Linked DNA regions of Homo sapiens: region 1 is linked to region 2. Evidence: fine-mapped QTL for protein levels in blood plasma. A gene starts in region 2. The other region holds a variant in brackets. All regions are shown on one strand. Distances are from middle to middle. Region 1 holds the start of TM4SF5 (transmembrane 4 L six family member 5). Region 2 holds the start of VMO1 (vitelline membrane outer layer 1 homolog).

Region 1 (10,793 bases), 19 kb after region 2:
CGGTGAGTGAAAGTAAGCCAGTGGTTCCCAGGTCCAGAGGAAAACAAGCCTGGAGCACGGAGCAAAGTTCAGACAGAGGCGTGGCAGAAACTGGCAGGATCAGAATGATAAGGGAGAGAGGCACAGGATGTGGGCCCTGAGGAGGCAGAGGCGGAGGAGCTGCAGCCCTGAGGTGAAGGGAGGATGTGGTGCTGGACAAGGTGGGGGCTATGGACACATTACCCTGGGTTAGTGCCTTCCTGTTTTTTCTGCACAGCTCCACAGCCCCTCTGTTGGTTCCATACCTGCTTTGCAACTTAGCCAAGCCCCTTCATGTCTCTTAAGTCTCAGTTGCCACTTGTGTCTGGGCACGGTGGCTCACACCTGTAATCCCAGCACTTTGGGAGGCCGAGGAGGGTGGATCACCTGAGGTCAGGAGTTTGAGACCAGCCTGGCCAACGTGGTGAAACCCCGTCACTACTAAAAATGCAAAAGTTATCTGTGCATGGTGGCGGGCACCTGTAATCCCAGCTATTCGAGAGGCTGAAGCAGGAGGATCACTTGAACCTGGAAGGTGGAGGTTGCAGTGAGCTGAGATTGTGCCATTGCACTCCAGCCTGGGTGACAAGAGTGAAACTCTGTCTCGAAAAATAAATAAATAAGTAAATAAAGTGACAAGAATGAAACTCTGTCTCAAAAAGTAAATAAATAAATAAATAAATAAATAGATAAATAAATAAGTGATGCCACTTGCCTTGTGGGCTACTTGTGAGGATTAAATGGGACAACCTGAGAAGTATTTTGTAAACTAGGAAGCACAGAGCAGATGTGTGGTGGCCTCTTCGTTTCTGCCAGCCTCTCAGGCAGCATTCTTCCCAGGGAGAAATTAAAGAGGTGATTGTGGGCTCTTATTGTCCTTGCATTTCGTCTTCCTGGTATTTGATTATTGATGTCTCCTCCTCTTGAGGCCACTGCCTGTCTCTCAGGGTGGGCTCGGGACCTAGGCCTCATTGATGAGAGCGTTCTATCCTGCTAGCCTCGGTGTTTGATTTAGCAACAGCCATGCGATCTGAGCCAACTCTGTGAGAATCAGCTTCTGCCATTTTTCCATTCTGAGGTCAAAGAAGTTCTGTTTTTGTTGGGGTGCTGCAGTTTCCTTGATAACTTCTTTTTTTTTTGAGACGGAGTCTCACTCTGCCGCCCAGGCTGGAGAGCAGTGGCGTGATCTTGGCTCACTGCAACCTCCGCCTCCTGGGTTCAAGCGATTCTCCTGCCTCAGCCTCCCAAGTAGCTGGGATTACAGGCGCCCACCACCACACCCAGCTAATTTTTGTATTTTTAGTAGAGACGGGGTTTCACCATGTTGGCCAGGCTGGTCTCAAACTCCTCACCTCAAATGATCCACCTGCCTCAGCCTCCCAAAGTGCTGGGATTACAAGCATGAGCCAAGCCACCCAGTCGACTTCTTTTTTTTTTAATTAAAAAAATGTTTTTGAGACCAGGGTCTCCCTTTGTTGCCCAGGCTGGTGTGGAGTGGATCATGGCTCCCTGCAGCCCTGACCACCTGGGCTCAAGTGATCCTCCCACCTCAGCCTCCCGAGTAGCTAGGACTATAGGTGTGTGCCACCACACCTGGCTAATGGTTTTTTGTTGTTTTTTTTTTGAGATGGAGTCTTGCTCTGTCACCCAGGCTGGAGTTTAGTGGTGTGATCTCGGCTCACTGCAACCTCTGCCTCCTGGGTCTCAGAAGCAAACAGGAGAGTGAAGGCCCCCACAGAATGAGCCCTAGCTCAAGTAGGATGTGGGAGTGCCATGAAGAGATGAGGGTAGCAGGAAGGGCTGCAGGGCTTCAGAGGGTATGCAATGAGGCTGTCACCTGGAAAGTGTCACCAGCCAGTGGCCCCTGATGCAGCCCCTCCTTGCGGCCCACTCAGACCACTACAGAAATGTGGAAAATGGAGAAAAGCCAGAATCTCTGCTATTTATAAGACAGAGGAACTGGATTGAGAAAAATACATGGAGAATTTACCTCTTGAATCAGAGGATGCCTGAAAAAGAAAATACTTTGAACCTCCCCAACTATTTGTCTCTGACTCATAGGTAATTATGATGACTGATACATTTGGTTTTGCTTCTGTTGGCATGTTTAATGCTTTAAACAACATTTCCATATTGCTTCTGATGTTTTCTGTTCCTCTTCTTTTTTGTTTTTTGAGACAGAGTTTTGCTCTTGTTGCCCAGGCTGGAGTGCAGTGGTGCGATCATGGCTCACTGCAACCTCCACCTCCCAAGTTCAAGCAATTCTCCTGCCTCAGCCTCCCGAGTAGCTGGGATTATAGGCATGCGACACCACGCCCAGCTAATTTTGTATTTTTAGTAGAGACGGGGTTTCTCCATGTTGGCCAGGCTAGTCTCGAACTCCCGACCTCAGATGATCCCCGCCTCGGCCTCCGAAAACGCTGGGATTACAGGCATGAACCACTGCGCCCAGCCTCTGTCCCTTTTCTTTAAAGATTTTACATTATCCTTTTTTTTTTTTTTTTGAGACAGGGTCTCTGTCACTCAGACTAGAGTGCCATGGTAAGATAATCATGGCTCGCTGCAGCTATGACCTCCTAGCTCAAGCTGTCTTCCCACTTCAGCTTCCTTAGTAGCCAGGATTACAGGCCCACACCACCACACTCAACTAATTTAAAAAATTTCTTTTGGCCGGGCGCAGTAGCTCACGCCTGTAATCCCAGCACTTTGGGAGGACAAGGTGGGCAGATCATGAGGTCAGGAGATCGAGACCATCCTGGCTACCGTGGTGAAACCCTGTCTCTACTAAAAATACAAAAAAAATTAGCTGGGTGTGGTGGCAGGCACCTGTAATCCCAGCTAGTCGGGAGGCTGAGGCAGGAGAATTGCTTGAACCCGGGAGATGGAGGTTGCAGTGAGCCGAGATTGCACCACTGGACTCCAGCCTGGGTGACAGAGGAAGACTCCATCTAGAAAAAAAAAAAAAAGATACAAGGAAAAGGGTCACATTGGATCCCACCCTAGATCACCTGACCCCCAGCCAACTCCTATGTGTGTATCAGTGAAATAAATGCTTATATTTATTTGACACTAAGACTTCGTCGAGGGGGATGGTTTGTTGCCCAGTAACAAGTTCCTAACACAGACCCCCTTATCTAGGCCAGGGCTGGTTGATTGAGGAACAAGTAGCTGACCCAAAGGCAGACATGTAGCCAGCGACCTGTGAGGTCTCTCGAGGTGAGAACTCCATCCAACAGAGGTACACTGACTGGATAATGACCAATCCACCGACTGGATCTTCATGATTGGGAAATGTGTCTGTGAGACAAGCTGAGACAGTCATCAGAGAGTGGGGTGGCTTCAAACTGAGAGTTGTATGCAAGAAAGAAGCAATCAAAAGCCAGAGGCAACTGACACCAGAAATAAGCAGAAGTCACAGCAAGAGAAGTGTATGGAGAATAGTTACTCTGAAACAGCGCCAGAGGGAGAAGCACAGGCACTGGAAAACTCTGGTTCCTCAGGAGGTGGCCGATGAGAGGTTGTCACCAGCACTAATGTTGAACTACCAGAGCAACTGTCATATCCCGAATAGTGGCCCTTCCAACCGTGGACCTGAAGAGGGGATTCAGCC[A/G]TTGATCTGATGGACAGAGAGCAGGGCCAAGAGCTGGCCACCTATTTGTCTACAAGTTGCTCAAGCTGATTCTGAGAGATGGTGCCTCTTTTTTATTTTTTTTTAAACAGAGTTTCACTCTTATTGCCCAGGCTGCAGTGCAGTGGCGTGATCTCGGCTCACCGCCACCTCCGCCTCCCGGGTTCAGGAGACTCAAGTAGTTGGGATTACAGGTGCCCGCCACCACGCTTGGCTCATTTTTGTATTTTTTGTGGAGATGAAGACAGGGTTTCTCCATGTTGGCCAGGCTGCTCTCGAACTCCTGATCTCAGGTGATCCACCCACCTCGGTCTCCCAAAATGCTGGGATTACAGGTGTGAGCCACTGCGGCCAGCCAAATGGTGTCTGTTTTGAGGATGAATAAAGAGAAAAAAAATAGTTGTGTGGGTGGGGTGGTCCACAGGCATTCATTACATTATTTTTATACAATTCTGGATGAATGAAATAATGTTAATAATGTTAACAAAACATTATAGGGATTCTGAAAAATTTTCTCAAAACCAGGGAAGGGCAAATCAACCTGAAGACTGAAAGAAACAGAATCCTCTGGAGGAACATTTACTATAGGATTTGGAAGAGATTTCCAGGAAGATTTTTGATGACATCACTAGAATTCTCCTGGAACTAGGAACAGAATAACTTAAGAAAGAAAAGGCTGGCCGGGCGCGGTGGCTCACGCCTGTAATCCCAGCACTTTGGGAGGCCAAGCTCGGTGAATCACCTGAGGTCAGGAGTTTGAGACCAGCCTGGCCAACATGGCGAAACCCCATCTTCACAAAAAATACAAAAATTAGACAAGTGTGATGGCAGGCACCTGTAATCCCAGCTACTCAGGAGGCTGAGGCAGGAGAATCGCTTGAACCCGGGAGGTGGGGGTTGCAGTGAGCCGAGATCGCACCATTGCACCCCAGTATGGGCAACAGAGCAAGACTCCATCTCAAAAAAAAAAAAAAAAAAAAGGTCCAGGCTCAGTGGGTCACGCTTGTAATCCCAGCACTTTGGGAGGCCGAGGCGGGCAGATCACCTGAGGTCAGGAATTCGAGACCAGCCTGACCAACATGGGGAAACCCCGTCTCTACTAAAAATACAAAAATTAGCTGGGCATGGTGGCGGGTGCCTGTAATCCCCGCTACTCAGGAGGTTTAGGCAGGAGAATCGCTTGAACCCGGGAGGTGGAGATTGCAGTGAGCCAAGATCACGCCATTGCGCTTCAGCCTGGGTGACAGAGTGAGACTCTGGCTCAAAAAAAAAAAAAAAAAAATTCAGGAAACTGGCTTCTCCTAAGAACAAGAATAGAACTGGTGGAAGTGACACCACAGTTAAAACATCTGCACTAGGAGAAGACGTCACTGAGCGCAGATAGATCCACTCAGGTCAGTGGGTTGAAAGTTATACTGCACGGCAGGTAAAATATTAAAAGTCAGCTGACCATAGATTCATCCTGACAAAATATCTGAATTAAAGGATACATCTAGGCAGAATTTAAAAAGGCTACTTAGAAAGAAACAATAGTTGGTGTGGCCAGAGTCTTCTCTGAAATACTGAATGTCAGAGGACAAAGGAGTAAGGCAGCTGTGTCCACCAAAAAAGGTAGAACTATCATATACATGTCTAAGTTGCATTTTGTATGTTAAGGGCAACACAATTGCATTTCTGAGAATGTTTGGATTTCAAAATAACACTTTGGCTCCTTTTTTTTAGAGAAATTGTGTTGACTCACCAAGAGATGAAGTAAAATAAAAACCCCAAAATGGGGAAGTCTTGACGTAAGTCTAAATAAATTTCATATATCTGGTTACAAAACTGGATGCACATTTTGGAAAAAAATATTTTTCTTCTCTTTTGTTTTGAGTCAGAGTCTTGCTCTGTCATGCAGGCTGGAGTGCAGTGGCGTCATCTTGACTCTGCAACCTCAGCCTTCTGAGTTCAAGCGATTCTCCTGCCTTAGCCCCCCAAGTAGCTGGGATTACAAGCATGGGCCACCAGGCCTGGCTAATTTTTATATTTTTAGTAGAGACTAAGTTTCACCATGTTGGAGGGTGGTCTTGAACTCCTGACCTCAAGTGATCCACCTGTCTTGGCCTCCCAAAGTGCTGGGATTACAGGTATGAGCCACCACAACCCGGCCAGAGCCATTGTGCCCAGTCTCATTTTTTTTTAAAGACAGTGTCTCACTCTGTTGTCCAGACTGGTGTGCAGTGGCATGATCTTGGCTCACTGCAAACTCTATCTCCTGGGCTCAAGTGATCGTCCTGCCTCAGCCTGCCAAGTAACTGGGACTACAGATGTTCACCACCCACCATGCTTGTCTAATCTTTTTGTGTGTATATATGTAAATATATATATATATATTTTTTTTGAGACAGAGTTTCACTCTTGTTGCCCAGGCTGGAGTGCAATGGCGCAATCTCAGCTTACTGCAACTTCTGCCTCCCAGGTTCAAGCGATTCTCCTGCCTCAGCCTCCCTAGTAGCTAGGATTACAGGCATGTGCCACCACGCCCGGCTAATTTTGTATTTTTAGTAGAGACAGGGTTTCTCCATGTTGGTCAGGCTGGTCTCAAACTCCCGACCTCAGGTGATCCGCCCACTTCGGCCTCCGAAAGTGCTGGGATTACAAGTGTGAGCCACCGAGCCCAGCCATCATTTTGTATTTTTTGTAGAAATGGGGTTTCATTTTGTTGCCCAAGTGGTCTTGAACTCCTGGGCTCAAGAAATCTGCACACATAGGCTTCCCAAAGTGTTGGGATTACAGGCGTGAGCCACTGCACCTAGCCCCGTAAAAATTTCTTTTGAAGTGGCCGGGCGTGGTGGCTCACGCCTGTAATCCCAGCACTTTGGGAGGCCGAGGTAGGCGGCTCACCTGAGGTCGGGAGTTTGAGACCAGCCGGACCCACATGGAGAAACCCCATCTCTACTAAAAATACAAAATTAGCTGGACTTGGTAGCGCATGCCTGTAATCCCAGCTACTTGGGAAGGCTGAGGCAGGAGAATCGCTTGAACCTGGGAGGTGGAGATTGCAGTGAGCCAAGATCGCGCCATTGCACTCCAGCCTGGGCAAGAGCAAAACTCTGTCTCAAAAAAAAAAAAAAAAAAAAAAATTCTTTTAAAGGGCAGCTGTATAATGTAAATTCTAAAAATGATATTAATACTATTAAATATGTCATTATTGCTTGCCATACTCTGGGTCCATTGTAAGGAACTATACCAGGTAACAGAAAACCCAACTCTATTGCAACAAAAAGGGAATTTATTGGTTCAAGCAATCAAAACATCCAGTAGGACTGAAGTAGGACTAACTGCAGGTGCAGTTTGGTCCAGAAGTTCAGGATGTCATCAGTGTTCTTGTTTCTCTGCCATTCTCTCTGCTGTTCCTTTTTTTGGCTTTGACTTCCTCCTTAAGTGGGATCTTCCTCCTGACAGTAGTATTAGCTGCAGCAGTTCAGACCTTATGTCTTTACACCCTACCACCAGGAGGAAGAGAATCTCCTCGCATAGCTTTCCCTGAGTAGAGAGGAAGTTTCTTTCCCATTTACCCCAGAAAATTTCTCCTTGGTGCAGACTGGGTTCTATGTCTGTCCCTTACACGGATCACTGTGGCCAGAGGGTAGAACATGCTGTATGAGTCTGTTCTCACGCTGCTAATAAAGACATACCCGAGACTGGTACTTTATAGAGGAAAGAGGTTTAATTGACTCACAGTTTAGCATGGCTGGGGAGGCCTTAGGAAACTTACAATCATGGCGGAAGGGGAAGCAAACATGTCCTTCTTCACATGGAGGCATTCCAGCACAGGGGGTGTTGTCAATTCTGTCTAAGCCACCAGGCTGGGAAATTAAGGGCAGTATTAGGAAGGAGGAAAGACAGAATGAATGATGGGGAGGCATCCAGCGAATATCCTCTCCAGGGAATCTGTCTAAACTCTGTGGCTCCGTACTCACTGCCCATAGCTGAGTAGCACATGCTTGACCTAGTATGTGACAGAGATAGTGAGTTAGTCCCAGTCTTCTGCTTTTATTATAGTAGCAGACTTTGTAGTCTGCTGCTAAAGGCACATGGCTGCTAAGCTAGAGACTATATTTTCGGCCAAGCCCGGTGGCTCACGCCTGTAATCCCAGCACTTCGGGAGGCTGAGGCGGGTGGATCACCTGAGGTCAGGAGTTTGAGACCAGCCTGGCCAACATGGTGAAACCTCATCTCTACTAAAAATACAAAAATTAGCCAGGCGTGGTGTCTCACGTCTGTAATCCCAGCACTTTGGGAGGCCAAGGCAGGTGGATCACCTGAGGTTGGGAGTTTGAGGCCAGCCTGACCAATATGGAGAAACCCCATCTCTATAAAAATACAAAATTAGCCGGGCGTAGTGGCACATGCCTGTAATCCCAGCTACTCCGGAGGCTGAGGCAGGAGAATCGCTTGAACCTGGGAGGCGGAGGTTGCAATGAGCTGAGATCATGCCACTGCATGCACTCTAGCCTGGGCGACAGAGCGAGACCCCGTGTCAAAACAACAACAACAACAAAAAAACCCTATTTTTTCTAACTTCTTTTGTAGCTGTGGCCATGCGTTGTCACATAGTTATGGCTTATGGGAAGGAGTGTAAATGATTTGATCAACTTTGTTTCCTTTTTGTGAGAATGCTGCTAGTTGATCTTACCTTACTGCAATGTTGGTTTTAAGGCATAATGCAGATGTTTTCTGTAAGTTTTATGAGATCCCCACAACAAAGTATTCAATTTATTTATAATTTCAGCTTTTATTTTAGATTTGGGGGTACATGTGCAGGTTTGTCATAAGGGTATATTGTGTGATGTTGAGGTTTAGGAACATGATTAATCCTGTCACCCAGGTACTGAGCATAGGACCCAGTAGTTTTTTTGGTTTTTTGTTTTTTTGAGACAGCGTCTCACTTTGTCACCCAGGCTGGAGTGCAGTGGCACGATCTCGGCTCACTGCAACCTCGGCCTCCTGGGTTCAAGCGATTCTCCTGCCTCAGCCTCCCAAGTAGCTGAGATTACAGGCGCATGCCACCACATCTGACTAATTTTGGTATTTTTAGTAGAGATGGCGTTTCACCATGTTGACTAGGCTGGTCTCAAACTCCTGACCTCAGGTGATCCACCCGCCTCAGCCTCCCAAAGTGCTGGGATTACAGGCATGAGCCACCGCACCCGGCCAGAACCCAGTAGTTTTTTCAACCCTTTCCCCACTCTCTCCCTTCCCCTCTGGAGGCCCCAGTGTCAATTGTTTACATCCTTATGTCCATGTGCACCCAGTGCTTAGCTCCCACTTGTAAGTGAGAACATGCAATATTTGGTTTTCAGTTCGTGTGTTAATTGGCTTAGAATAATGGCCTCCAGCTGTATCCATATTGCTGCAAAGGACATGAATTTGTTCTTTTTTAATGGCTGCAACAATCAACTTTGGTGGTAGACTTTAAGGAATGAGCTTCCCTTTCCTCATCCTGCTGGCTGGAATGTAGGCCAGGAGTTGAACCGTTTGGACTCTTTGGTGAGGACAACCCTTAGAGATGGTGGAACAACAATATCAGGATTCTGGGCTCCCGAACAACCTAGAAGAGCAGGAGTGCCGCTGTGGGCCACCTGCCTCCTTACTATTTATTTATTTATTTATTTTGTGAGACGGAGTCTCGCTCTGTTGCCCAGGCTGGAGTGCAGTGGTGCGACCTTGGCTCACTGCAATCTCTGCCTCCTGGGTTCAAGCAATTCTCCTGCCTCAGCCTCCCAACTAGCTGGGATTGCAGGTGGGCACCACCACACCTGGCTAATTTGTGTATTTTTAGTAGAGACGGGGTTTCACCATGTTGGCCAGGCTGGTCTCGAACTCCTGACCTCAAATGACCCACTCCCCTCGGCCTCCCAAAAAGTGCTGGGATTACAGGCGTGAAGCACCGGGCCCGGCAGCCTCGTTACTATTTTGTGAGCAAGAAATAAACTTCTACTCTATTTGAGACATTGGTAATTTCAGTCTTCGTTTAAAGCAGTGGAAGTTACCAGAAATTTGTAAACTGTACCATAAGCTGAGTGTCCAGGCCAATTAGATTTGCTTTCTCCTAGGATATAAACTGGGAAAAATGGAAAATTTTCCAGTGGTTTCTAGACTTTAAATTGGTTATGAGAATACTGTGAAATTGAGTCAGTGACGTTTATTTCTTTTCTTTTCTTTTTTTTTTTTTGAGACAGAGTCTCACTCCCAGGCTGGAGTGCAGTGGTGCAATCTGGGCTCACTGCAACCTCCACCTCCCGAATTCAAGTGATTCTCCTGCCTCAGCCTCCCAAGTAGCTGGGATTACAGGCGCGCATCACCAAGCCCAGCTAATTTTTTGTATTTTTAGTAGAGATGGGGTTTCATCGTGTTGGTCAGGCTGGTCTCGAACTCCTGACCTCAGGTGATACACCCACCTCGGTCTCCCAAAGTGTTGTGATTACAGGTGTGAGCCACCTGCTTGGCCTATTTGTTAAATATTTAGCATATTTCAAATTTTTTTTTTGATACAGAATCTTACTCTGTCACGCAGGCTATAGTACAGCAGTGGTGTGATCTTGGCTCACTAAAACCTCAGCCTCCTGAGTAGTTGGGACTACAGCCATGTGTCACCACGCCTGGCTAATTTTTTGTATTTTTAGTAGAGATGGGGTTTCACCATGTTGGCCAGGCTGGTCTCGAACTTCTGGCCTCCAGTGATCTGCCCGCCTCGGCCTCCCAAAGTGCTGGGATTACAGGTGTGAGCCACTGCACCTGGCCAATCAATTCTAAGTCACGTGTTTTAGCACATTTTATTTTTCCCAAAATTAGGATATATTGTACAATCCATGGTGTCATACAACATGGTAGGTTTTGCCTACACTTGTGAGAACCCAGTCGTAGCTGTTCGTATTGTTATCACCTCAGCTGAGTTGTGAACCCTACTGGTACTACACTTCTTGAGTTGAATTGCTGTTTATAATGTCTTCAAATAACACACAGTACCAATTACATTAGCACTGTCCCAAATTAAATACTTACATATAAATCTAACAAAATACGTATAAGATCTACATGAAGAAAACTACAAAACTCTGATGAAAGACATCGAAGAAGATATAAATAAATGGAGAGAGTCCAT
Region 2 (11,469 bases):
TGTCTCAGAAAAAAAAAAAAAAAAAAGAAAGAAAACCAAACCAAAACGAAAAAACAACCCAGAAGGGTCTGGATGACGAGGTTTTTGGTCTGAGGACCTGGAAGAATGAAGTGTCATTTGAGCCAGCAAAGACTATGAAGGGAGAATTTTCGTGGGGAGGGCGTGTTGGAGCTTAGTGTTGGACATGGTAGGTTTGCTATGCCTAGGTGACATCCAAGTGGAAATACCGAATAGGCAATCGTATATGTAGGATTCTGGAGTCCAGGAGAAAGTGGATTGAAGTTGTGATTTGGAAGTTATCAGTGTATGAAATGGCAAGATCTTTCATGTTCATTGTGGGAGTGGCCGTGGAGTCACTTGGCTGCACAGGGGTGAAGCTCAGGGACAAGTCTGGGCTGGAGACTCAGCGTGTGTTTGGCAACCGAAGCCACGGGAGTGACTACGATAGGCCGGGGGAGCGTGAGTCTCTCGGCTGCCGAGAACAGAGATGACACATCTTCTCACCTTCGTTTTTTATTTCCCTTAAGCGCCTGTCGTCATCACACAAAACGCCCTACGTCGACGCTGCCAAATATTGCTTTTTTATTCCTCACAGCTCCTCCCGTCTTTCCGAGACTGCGGACAGAGGGAGCTCAACGCCATTCCCTGCCGGGGGCGGCCCTCGCCGCGGCGACGTCACGGAAGAGGCGGGATACGGAGGCGGCCGCGGCGCGGGCTGCAGGACTGACCCCGGGCTGCGCGGCCCCACCCCGGGCGGTCCGCTCCGTTCCCGCCGGTCCCCGCAGCCGCCGTCTTAGGCCAGCTGGAGCAGGCCGCGCTCGGCCAGCAGGCTCTGGGTGCGGTTGTAGACATCCTCCAAGGTGCCGGCGGCCCGGACCAGCGCGGCCCGCGCCTCCGCCTCGGTGGCTCCGGGACACGCCAGCTCCAGCAGGCGGCGGCGACCCGGGAAGGCGAGGAAGGCGAGGCGGGCGGTCTGTCGGACCAGCCAGGGGTGATGCGGACCCAGGGCCGCACGGTAGGCGTCGCTGCACTGCACGCCCGCGTCCGGGCCTCCCAGCGCGCCGGTCGCCACCCGGTGGAGGCAGAGCTGGGACCAGCGCAGCGCGCGGTGCAGCAGGAGCAGCGTGCGAGAGCCCGAGCTCCGGGTCGGGTCCCGGGGGGCCGCCCCCGGCTGCTCCAGCAGTCCCGCCCTCCGCTCCCACGCCGCCATGGCCACCAGCGACCAGTAGTGCTCCGCGTCCGGGCCGTGCACCCGAGCCTCCAGGTCTGTCACCTTGGTGAAGGCCTCCCTAGTGGCGAAGGCGAAGACGGAGCCGAGGGGAGTCAGGAACCTGCGGGCGAGACGATTTGAGAGAATGGAGATGGAGCCGCCAAGGAGGCGGGGACCGGCTGGGGGGCGGGAGGCCACTCACTCGACGAGTGCCCTCCATCCCGCCAGGTACGGCGACAGCCCCACATCCCCTTCGGGTTTCAGACTGGCGTGGAACCGCCTCATCATGCGGCCCAGCATCCCCCGAGGGCCCAGACACGGAGGCTGTTTCCTCTCCGGGGCCTCCAGGGTTCCCGACTCCTGCCGGACCTGGTGGGGAGACACGATGGGAAGAGGTGGGAGCAGATTCTGCCCTGAAGAAATTGTTCCGAAGGTTTAGCTGGCGGCTCTTCTGCTGTGCGCTCAGCTTCCGACGGGAGAGGGTAGACCGGGGGAGGACCCGCCCTTTGCCGGACCCTCAGCCTGGCTCCACGTCCCCCTGTTCTGGTCCCTCCTGGAGCGCCCGCGCCCAATCCTGCGCCTAGCGTACCTGGAAGGGCGCCGTTTCCCCTGGAACGCAGGGCTGCGCCCTGGGTCCGCAGCCCGAGCGGGCGCCTGGGTAGAGGAGAAGCGGAGCGGTGAGGGCTCGAGAAAGAGGCTTGAGTCGTGAGGGCCTGGATTCCGGGCTTCCTCCCGGAGCAAGTGAGGGAAGGGGCAGCTCACCTAGGCTCCGAACACTGAGATAAAGCAGCAGCAGCGCGAAGATAGCGAGAGGAATTGAGTGGCTGAACCAGTGCCGCAGGGCTGGGGGCCGCGCCGCCACTCCCATGCCTGCTGCTGGGACCGCCGCCCCCTCACCAGCGCCTAGCCAGTCCGTGTCCCTCCGCCTCCAGGAGGGGACAGAAGCCCGTGGTGCCCTGAGGCGCAAAGGATTAATAATTAACCTACTAAGGCCCCTTCCCCTGTGCCCTTCGCCCCAAAGGGCAGCTACCCTGGGTGCGAGGAACTGGGTGAAGGGAATTTGGGGGATTCGACAGCAGTGACAGATCAGTGCATTTCCCTTCCCTGTAGGGCCAGCTGTAGCAAGAGGCACTCTGAGTATTGGGAAGAGAGGCAGGGCCCAGAACAGCTCCCCTACTGAGCAGTGGTGTGGGCCCTAAATTCACTCTGGGCTTGAGTTCCCTCCACTGTAAATTGAGGATAATAATAGGTACTTTGCAAGCCTCATGTGAGGATTAAATGATAACGTATGTGAAAACACTAAATGGAAAAGCTGACCACAATTGCCCTATAAATCTTATTAAGTTCAAGCATTGTCCGGCTCTGGGATCCAGGGAACACCCACTTCTCTCTCGCTCTCTTTTTTTTTTTGTTTGTTTTTTGTTTTTTTGTTTTTTGAGACAAAGTCTCGCTCTGTCGCCCAGGCTGGAAAGTGCCGGCTAATTTTTACATTTTTAGTAGAGACAGGGTTTCACCATACTGGACAGGCTGGTCTCGAACTCCTGACCTTGTGATCCGCCCAACTTGGCCTCCCAAAGTGCTGGGATTACAGGCGTAAACCACCGCGCCCAGCCGGGAACACCCACTTCTAAATTCTCTATCTTATTCCCAGGGGACTTTGTCTTGACCTGGATACATGACCTCTTGCAATCATATACGTACGTCAGGCTTTATCCTTTTGCATTTTTGTGGTTTAATTTTCAAAACTCCAGATTGGCTCTTCAATCATTCATTGCACCAACTTTTATTAAGTACTTCCGCACGTACTAGGCTTCAAGAATACAAAAGTGCCTTCACAGAGCTCAAGGTCCACTGGGGGAGAATTTATCCTCTGTCTCCCCCACTGGAATGTGACCTCTGATGACAGGGGCCTTGTTATTCTTGCTTACAGCAAGTGGAATATTGCTTAAGCCAAAACATATTATTGCTAAATAGGTATTGAATAAACAAAGGAGTGTGTATGAGGGGCAGGTAAATCTGGGGTTGTGGCCCCTAACAAATTTAGCCAGGCATTTTTAGGCCAGGCACGGTGGCTCACGCCTGTAATCCCAGCACTTTGGGAGGCCGAGGTGGGCGGATCACCTGAGGTCAGCCTGGCTAACATGGCAACACCCCGTCTCTACTAAAAATATACAAATTAGCCGGGCGTGGTGGCGAACGCCTATAATCCCAGCTACTCGGGAGGTTAAGGGAAGAGAATCGCTTGAACCCGGGAGGCAGAGGTTGCAGTGAGCCGAGATGGCGTCACTGCACTCCAACCTGGGCAACAGAGTGAGACTTCGTCTCAAAACAAACAAACAAACAAACAAACAAAAAACATACTTAGCCAGATTTTCTCGCTTTTTGTTTTGCAAATTAGGAGTCCATCTGGTGGTCACAGGGGGAAAGGCATTCCAGGAAAGGATATAAGGATACAGAAAGCAATGGAAGAAACAGCATGATCTTTTCTTAGGGGTTCTTAGTCTCCTGTCCCCAAACTTCTTAGAGTTATTCCTGTTGGACCGGGCGCGGTGGCTCATGCCTGTAATCCCAGCACTTTGGGAGGCCGAGGCAGGCGGATCACAAGGTCAAGAGATAGAGACCATCCTGGCCAACACGGTGAAACCCGGTCTCTACTAAAAATACAAAAATTAGCGGGGCGGCGTCTTGGCGCGCGCCTGTAGTCCCAGCTACTCGGGAGGCTGAGGCAGGAGAATCGCTTGAACCCAGGAGGTGGAGGTAGCAGTGAGCCGAGATCGCGCCACTGCGATGCCGCCACTGGGCGACAGAGTGAGACTTCGACTCAAAAAATAAAAATAAAAAAGAATTATTTCTGTTTGTATATGTCTTCTTCTAAGGTAGGGAGGAGTGTCCCGGATTCTCAAGGTGTTAGGGCCCTGAGCTCTCAGAAGACCTCTCAGAGGAGGAAGAGACTTCTGAGCTGACAGGAGTTTTCTCAGCTTCTCCAGTTCGAGGATTCTTGTCCTATCCTCACTCTGATGTCCCCTCACATCCTGGAGGTCTCTGGGTTGCTCTTGCCCCATCCCGTCACTGGTGGGACTCCCGGGAGGTCACTTCCATCCCTAGCCCTGGTCTCTGCTCTGTCTCCACTCTCACTGCTGGAATGTTTCCCAGCTTGCTTGGCTGTAAACCTAAGGCAAGTTGCTTGCCATTTTTGAGCCAGTTCCCTCATCTACAAAATAGGAAGGATAATTCTCACCCCCCAAAAATTGTTGTGAGGGTTAAACAAAATACTGCAAAGCGCTAACCATAATTCGTAGCCTATAGTAAATATTCAGTAGGTGATGGTTATTTTAATTCGCCCTCTCTCACTGCCCCTCCTACCCTAGCTCTGGGAGCCTCTGCCTCCGGGAGCAGGAAATAGGGTTCCGGGAGTGGATTAGTTTTGGGTTTCACTTAATCTGGGAGGCCCTTCCGCAATCGGAGCCCTCACAGAGGCCAAACTGATATAAATCTGCTTAGGAGGCCTGATTCACAGACGCTACAGGATGGAGCGGGGCGCAGGAGCCAAGCTGCTGCCGCTGCTGCTGCTTCTGCGGGCGACTGGTTTCACATGTGCACAGACAGATGGCCGGAACGGCTACACGGCGGTCATCGAAGTGACCAGCGGGGGTCCCTGGGGCGACTGGGCCTGGCCTGAGATGTGTCCCGATGGATTCTTCGCCAGCGGGTTCTCGCTCAAGGTTGGGGCTCAGGCGTAGGTCCTGGAGAGGGCGGAGATGCGTGGGACCATAGAGCCAAGGATGATAATTCCGTGACTCGCCCTTGCCCCTCTCCTCGATACCCAGGTGGAGCCTCCCCAAGGCATTCCTGGCGACGACACTGCACTGAATGGGATCAGGCTGCACTGCGCGCGCGGGAACGTCCTAGGCAATACGCACGTGGTAGAGTCCCAGTCTGGAAGGTGGGGCGCAGGGGTCGAGGATCCCTTGGGGTGATGGTATGTCCCTTACCCTCTATTACATACTCCGTCGCAACAGGCAGGCTGGCTCCGCCAGAGCTACGGGGCAGTATAGACCGGGGAGGCGAAGGGTGGATGGAAGACCCCTCCTCCGCTCCTCGGCGGAGGTCGGGGAGCACCCAGCCCACCAGGTCATATACACAGCACTTGGCTTGGAAAGTCTCAAGGGCTTGGTGAATGGGGGGCCCGCAGAGGCAACGCATCTCCCTTTGCCTTGCAGCTGGGGCGAATGGAGTGAGCCGCTGTGGTGTCGCGGCGGCGCCTACCTAGTGGCTTTCTCGCTTCGCGTGGAGGCACCCACGACCCTCGGTGACAACACAGCAGCGAACAACGTGCGCTTCCGCTGTTCAGACGGCGAGGAACTGCAGGGGCCTGGGCTGAGCTGGGGAGACTTTGGAGACTGGAGTGACCATTGCCCCAAGGGCGCGTGCGGCCTGCAGACCAAGATCCAGGGACCTAGAGGCCTCGGCGATGACACTGCGCTGAACGACGCGCGCTTATTCTGCTGCCGCAGTTGAACGGCGCCGCCGCCGCCGCTCTCTCCCGGGCCAGGAGGCTAGTCCCACCTCTTGCTATTAAAGCTTCTCTGAGTTGACTTTGGTCTCGCCTGTTTATTTCATTTATTTATTTATTAATTTATTTATTTGAGACGGAGTATCGCTCTGTCCCCCAGGCTGGAGTGCAGTGGCTCACTCGGCTCACTGCAAGCTCTGCCTCCCGGGTTCACGCCGTTCTCCTGCCTCAGCCTCCCGAGTAGCTGGGACTACAGGCGCCCGCCACTACGCCCGGCTAATTTTTTTTTTTTTTTTTTGTATTTTTAGTAGAGACGGGGTTTCACCGTGTTAGCCAGGATGGTCTCGATCTCCTGACCTCATGATCCGCCCACCTTGGCCTCCCAAAGTGCTGGGATTACAGGCGTGAGACACCATGCCCGGCTGGTCTCGCCTGTTTAAGGGATGGGGAACTGAGTCTCCTTTTCCCCTCCTAACTTAGCATTAGGTGAGGCATACATTTGGATTTGGTCTCAGGGGTCTATGGTAGATTGCTGAAAAGTTATGGACTCGAGAAAAACGCACTTAAACAGATAATTTTCAGACAAGTGATGGAAGTCTGGCTTTTTTTTTTTTTTTTTTTTTTGGAGTCTCACTCTGTCACTCAGGCTGGAGTGCAGTGGTATGATCTTGGCTCACTGCAACTTCCACCTCCTGGGTTCAAACGATTCTTCTGCCTCAGCCTCCTGAGTAGTTGGGACTACTGGTACCCACCACCATGCCCAGCTAATTTTTGTATTTTTAGTAGAGATGGAGTTTCCCCATGTTGGCCAAGCTGGTCTCAAACTCCTGACCTCAAGTGATCCACTGGCTTCAGCCTTCCAAAGTTTTGGGATTACCGGCTTGCACCATCGTGCGGGCCCAGGAAGTCTGGCTTTCTGAGAGAGTCTGCAGACACCCTGCCCCCATTAGGTGCCTAGGTTGTCTCCTTTCTGAACCAGTGACCTAAGATTAAGAAAATTCTACCAAATTATGGCCAGATGTGGTGGCTCACAGCTGTAATCTCAGCACTCTGGGAGGCTGAGGTGGGTGGATTGTTTAAGCTCAGCAGTTGGAGACCAGCCTGGGCAACATGGTGAAATCCCCTCTCTACAAAAAGTACAAAAATTAGCAGGGGTATGGTGGTGTGCGCCTGTAGTCCCAGCTACTCAGGAGGCAGAGGCAGGAGGATTGCTTTAGCCCAGGAGGTGGAGGCTGCAATGAGCCGAGATCGTGCCACTGCACTCCAGCCTGAGTGACAAAGTGAGACCCTGTCAAAAAAAGCAAAAAAAAAAAATTCTATCAAATTAGGAGGTGACAAGGCCACAATGGCTTTACAGTTCCATTTTCTAGAGCTTAAGAGGTTACAGTGTCTTTTCCATAGTTTTCATTATTTTCTCCTACAGAACTGATCCCTGTTTAGGATCTTTGTCCTTGCTGTTCTCTCTGCCTATAATCCCCCAAATATCCAGATGGTTAGCAAGCCTTCCTGATCTTAGCTCAAATTTCATTTTCTCAAATTTTCCCTGTCATAAAAGAGAGTCTCTCCATAAGTCAATATCAATCCCATTACCAACATGCTTTTAAAAAGTGCTTATCGGCCACGCACGGTGGCTCAAGCCTGTAATCCCAATACTTTGGGAGCCTGAAGTGGGAGGATTACTTTTGCTCAGGAGTTCGAGACCAGCCTGGGCAACCTCGTCTCTACAAAAAATACAAAAAAGTTAGCAAGGCATGGTGGCATATGCCTATGGTCCCAGCTACTTGGGAGGCTGAGACGGGAGGATTGCTTGAGCCCAGGAGGTGGAGGATGCAGTGAACCGAGATCGTACCACGGCCTTCCAGCCTGAGTGACAGCGAGACCCTGTCAAAAAAAAAAAAAAAAAGTGCTTATTACCTATTGAAATAATTTTTTGCTTCTTTTAAAAATTGCCTATCTTCCACTCTTGGAATGCCAAGTTCTTTGAGAGAATAAAACTTGTCTGTCTTGTTTACCGTCCTTATTTCCAGCGCAACCAAATAGCTCAGTATCTATTCGTTAAGAAAGTACAAGTGGGGTGCAGGGGCCCCAAAGGCCAGGTGTATCCGTAGCCTCTCGCACACTCCTCCTTACAGAAGGCACAATCTCAGACAGAGAAGAGAGCGCAAAGCAGTTTATTCTAGCGAGCAAGGGAGTGAGCGTCCAGGAAGGAGCAGGTGTAACCCGGCGGTCAGTGGAGCCTCAGTGAGGTGTGTCCTGCGGAAAAGAGAAGGTGAGAACGCAGCCAGGACCAGGCAGGTTCCCTCTACAACTCCACCGCAAGAAATTTCACCTGTTTTTTCCTGCAATCGCCGCAGAAGACACCAATGGTCGCGTTCACCAGCTGGATCCCACACAGTACTATCTCCAGGCAGGAGGCGGCCACCAGCAGCGAGAAGAGCGTCACATTCCAGGGGACCACGCGAGGGGGCGCCTCGCACCGATCCCATAGAGTGCGGTTGAGCAAGTAAGCTCCCCTGTGGGAGGGGTGAGGCCACGTGGGAGAAGGCAGCGTGCGCGTGCGCCACCCCGCCCCCAAGAATACGTCCCAGGGGATTTGCTAAGGCCCAGGTAGCCCACGTGGAGCGAGTGCCCTCGAAGTCGAGTCCCGCCCAGGTGTCCCAGTCCACGGGGGAAGGGCGGGAGGGAAGAGGCAGAGAATGGAGGACACGAATACAGGCTAAACCTTACGCGGTGTCTTCGAAGTGGTAGCCCCACTCGCCGTTCATTAAGCATCTGGGTCCATTTCGGAGCCCAGCTCCAGACACCGAGAGGCAGTAGATGGCACCAAGCACCCCGAACGCCGAGGAGAAGACCGAGCGCAGCATCTGGATGTGGTGTGGAAGGGGAGGTAAGGCCCAATCTCCCCACCTGTGGGTGACGACGCTCAGCGCCAGCCCCCACGCATTATCGAAATCTGCTCCAGTCGGGTTGTTAAAATGTATTTTTTAATGCCGGGCGCGGTGGCTCACCCCTGTAATCTCAGCACTTTGGGAGGCTGAGGCGGGTGGATCTCCTGAGGTCGAGAGTTCAAGACCAGCCTGGCCAACATGGAGAAACCTTGTCTTTACTGAAAATACAAAAATTAGCCGGGTGTGGTGGCACATGCCCGAGGCTGAGGCAGGAGAATAGCTTGAACATGGGAGGCGGAGGTTGCAATGAGCCGAGATCGCACCACTGCACTCCAGCCTGGGCGACAGAGCCAGACCCCGTCTCAAAAAGAAAAAAAAAAAAAAAAATTAGAAATTCGGACTCTGTTTCTGCACCTGTCCTTGCAGAACCACAGCACTCTCTATGGAATTCCTAGCTACACAAGCTCCTCTGCGGACTCCCAGGCCCCACCCCACCCTTCCCTGGCACCCACAAATCTCAGATCTCAATGATCCTGAGGGGTAGGCGGGTGAAGGGGAGAGGGGGGAACTACAACCCCAGTGAATCTCGGCGGCCGCTGGCTTTCAGGTTAGCCTAACTGCAAGCCCGGGGTTTGAAGGGAAATTTATTTTAAACCTGACTCGAGGCTGGGCACGATATCTCACACCTGTAATCCCAGCACTTTGGGAGGCCAAGGGGGGCAGATCGCCTGAGGCCAGGAGTTTCAGACCACTCTGGCCAACAGTGAAACCCCGTCTCTACTAAAAATATAAAAATTAGCTGGGTGTGGTGGCAGGCGCCTGTAATCCCAGCTACTTGGGAGGCTGGAAGAACAAGAATGGCTTGAACTAGGGAGGCGGAAGCTGCAGTGAGCCAAGATCGTGCCACTGTACTCCAGCCTGGGTGACAGACCAAGACTATGTCTAAAATAAATAAGATAAATAAATGTAAAATAAAATAAAAATACATTTTTTTTGAGGCGGAGTTTTGCTCTTGTTGCCCAGGCTGGAATGCAATGGCACAATCTTGGCTCACCGTAATCTCCTGCCTCAGCCTCCTGAGTAGCTGGGATTACAGGCGCCCACCACCACACCAGGCTAATTTCTGTATCTTTTCTTTTCTTTTTTTTGAGACAGAGTTTCACTCTTGTTGCCCAGGCTGGAGTGCAATGGTGTGATCTCGGCCCATTGCAACCTCTGCCTCCAGGGTTCAAGTGATTTTCCTGCCTCAGCCTCCTGAGTAGCTGGGATTACAGGTGCCCGCCACCACGCCTGGCTAATTTCTGTATCTTTTCTCTTCTTTTTTTTTTTTTTTTTTTTTTTTTAAATCACTGCTTACTGCAGCCTGGACCTCCTGGGCTCAAGCGGCCCTCCCACCTCAGCCTCCCAAGTAGCCGAGATTGCAGGTGCTTGCCACCACGCCCGGCTAATTTTTGTATTGTTAGTAGAGATAGGGATCTTGCCATGTTTCCTGGGCTGGTCTAGAACTCCTGGCTCAAGCCGTACTCCCACCTCAGCCTGCTAAAGTGTTGGGATTACAGGCATGAGACACCACCCCCAGCCCTGAATTCCTTCTTAATCTGGATCTTACCCTGCAGCGGTTTCCACAGCACCCAGCACCACAGCAGCCCTTGCCCCCTGCCCGAACGGCTGCAATCCCCGGACACAGTACCTGTGGGACAAGAGTCATTGTTATAGCACGTCCCCCCAGATCCTCCAGGCCTGACTTGCATCAGTGCCTACCTCCTTCAGGAAGCTGCCTGTGATGCCTTCAGCCCTTTGGACTGTAGAAGACCTTATCTCTACGTCTCCTGGAGCTGCTGGGCTTCACCTTACTTTATCCTTATTTACGTGCCTACCTTATCTCTGTCCAGATTGTGGCCTCTAGAGGGTAGGGCCCAATATCATTATTTTCCCCAATCTTGGCACATAGTAGGTGCCCTACTGAATGGAAATCAGGGAAACTACTTCACATGCTATGAATTGATTCATCTCTCAGGGTCTCAGTTTTGCCTGTATAAAATGGGTCTGGAAGATCTACCTCACAGGTCTGTTCTCAGGATTTAATGGGAGAACAAGCTGACTAGGTGTTAAGACTGGCTCAGAGGCCGGGCGCGGTGGTTCACGCCTGAAATCCCAGCATGTTGAGAGGCTGAGGCTGGTGGATCACCTGAGGTCGGAAGTTCAAGACCAGCCTGACCAACATGGAGAAACCCCAACTCTGCTAAAAATACAAAATTAGCCGGGCGTGGTGGCGCATGCCTATAATCTCAGCTACTCGGGGGGCTGAGGCAGGAGAATTACTTGAACCTGGGAGGTGGAGGTTGTGGTGAGCTGAGATCGTGCCACTGTACTCCAACCCGGGCAATAAGAGCGAAACTCCATCTCAAAAAAAAAAAAAAAAAAAGACCAGCTCAGAGTAACTCAATATTTATAAGTTCCCTCAGCAGCAGGAAGGGATAGAGGTGTTGGAGTGTCTGGTGAATTGGGATTACAGTAGAGTGTGGAAGAGTGCTAGTGGATGGTCTGATATGGAGTGTAGCATTTTCCAAGATTCAAGCCTTGGTCTTTTTTTCTCCCTGTGGCTTTCCTAACAATGCCCATCCCCTTTCAGGGAATCAGCTCTTCACTCTGCCAGAAGTTGCCTCCAAAACTGATGCCTCCAGATCCTATGTTCACTTGAATATCTTGGTTTTAGCTCAAATTCAACCAGCCTCACGCTCATCTCACAATATTCCTCAAATTCATCTCCCTTTGACTTTCTTGTCTCCATCAGTGGAAAAAATAACATCTACTAGGTCAGCCAGGCTGGAAAGCTTTAATCTTGCACCCAGAAAGAC

The links. PIP is the posterior inclusion probability: the model's chance that the variant is causal. Protein levels are from antibody-based Olink assays in UK Biobank. Linkage for the fine-mapping came from a reference panel and not from the study's own genotypes, which makes the PIPs less certain.
Region 1: its variant is fine-mapped to the plasma level of the VMO1 protein (UK Biobank, PIP above 0.99).

What each region holds. Positions count from the first base shown.
Region 1 is chr17:4,761,107-4,771,899 of GRCh38, reverse strand. It overlaps TM4SF5 (transmembrane 4 L six family member 5), which reads right to left and starts at 14. Exons shown (of 5, transcript NM_003963.3): 1 at 1-14. RefSeq lists a silencer at 7,674-7,836. The variant A/G (reference allele first, on the strand shown) is at 3,629.
Region 2 is chr17:4,779,621-4,791,089 of GRCh38, reverse strand. VMO1 (vitelline membrane outer layer 1 homolog) reads left to right here and starts at 4,726. Exons shown (of 3, transcript NM_182566.3): 1 at 4,726-4,932; 2 at 5,038-5,153; 3 at 5,431-5,805. The coding sequence starts at 4,738. The coding sequence ends at 5,728. It overlaps TM4SF5 (transmembrane 4 L six family member 5), which reads right to left. Exons shown (of 5, transcript NM_003963.3): 2 at 10,221-10,301; 3 at 8,451-8,587; 4 at 8,053-8,236; 5 at 7,879-7,976. The coding sequence ends at 7,962. GLTPD2 (glycolipid transfer protein domain containing 2) reads right to left here and starts at 2,126. Exons shown (of 4, transcript NM_001014985.3): 1 at 1,973-2,126; 2 at 1,800-1,864; 3 at 1,413-1,579; 4 at 501-1,331. The coding sequence starts at 2,078. The coding sequence ends at 794. RefSeq lists an enhancer at 360-439 and a silencer at 670-1,319.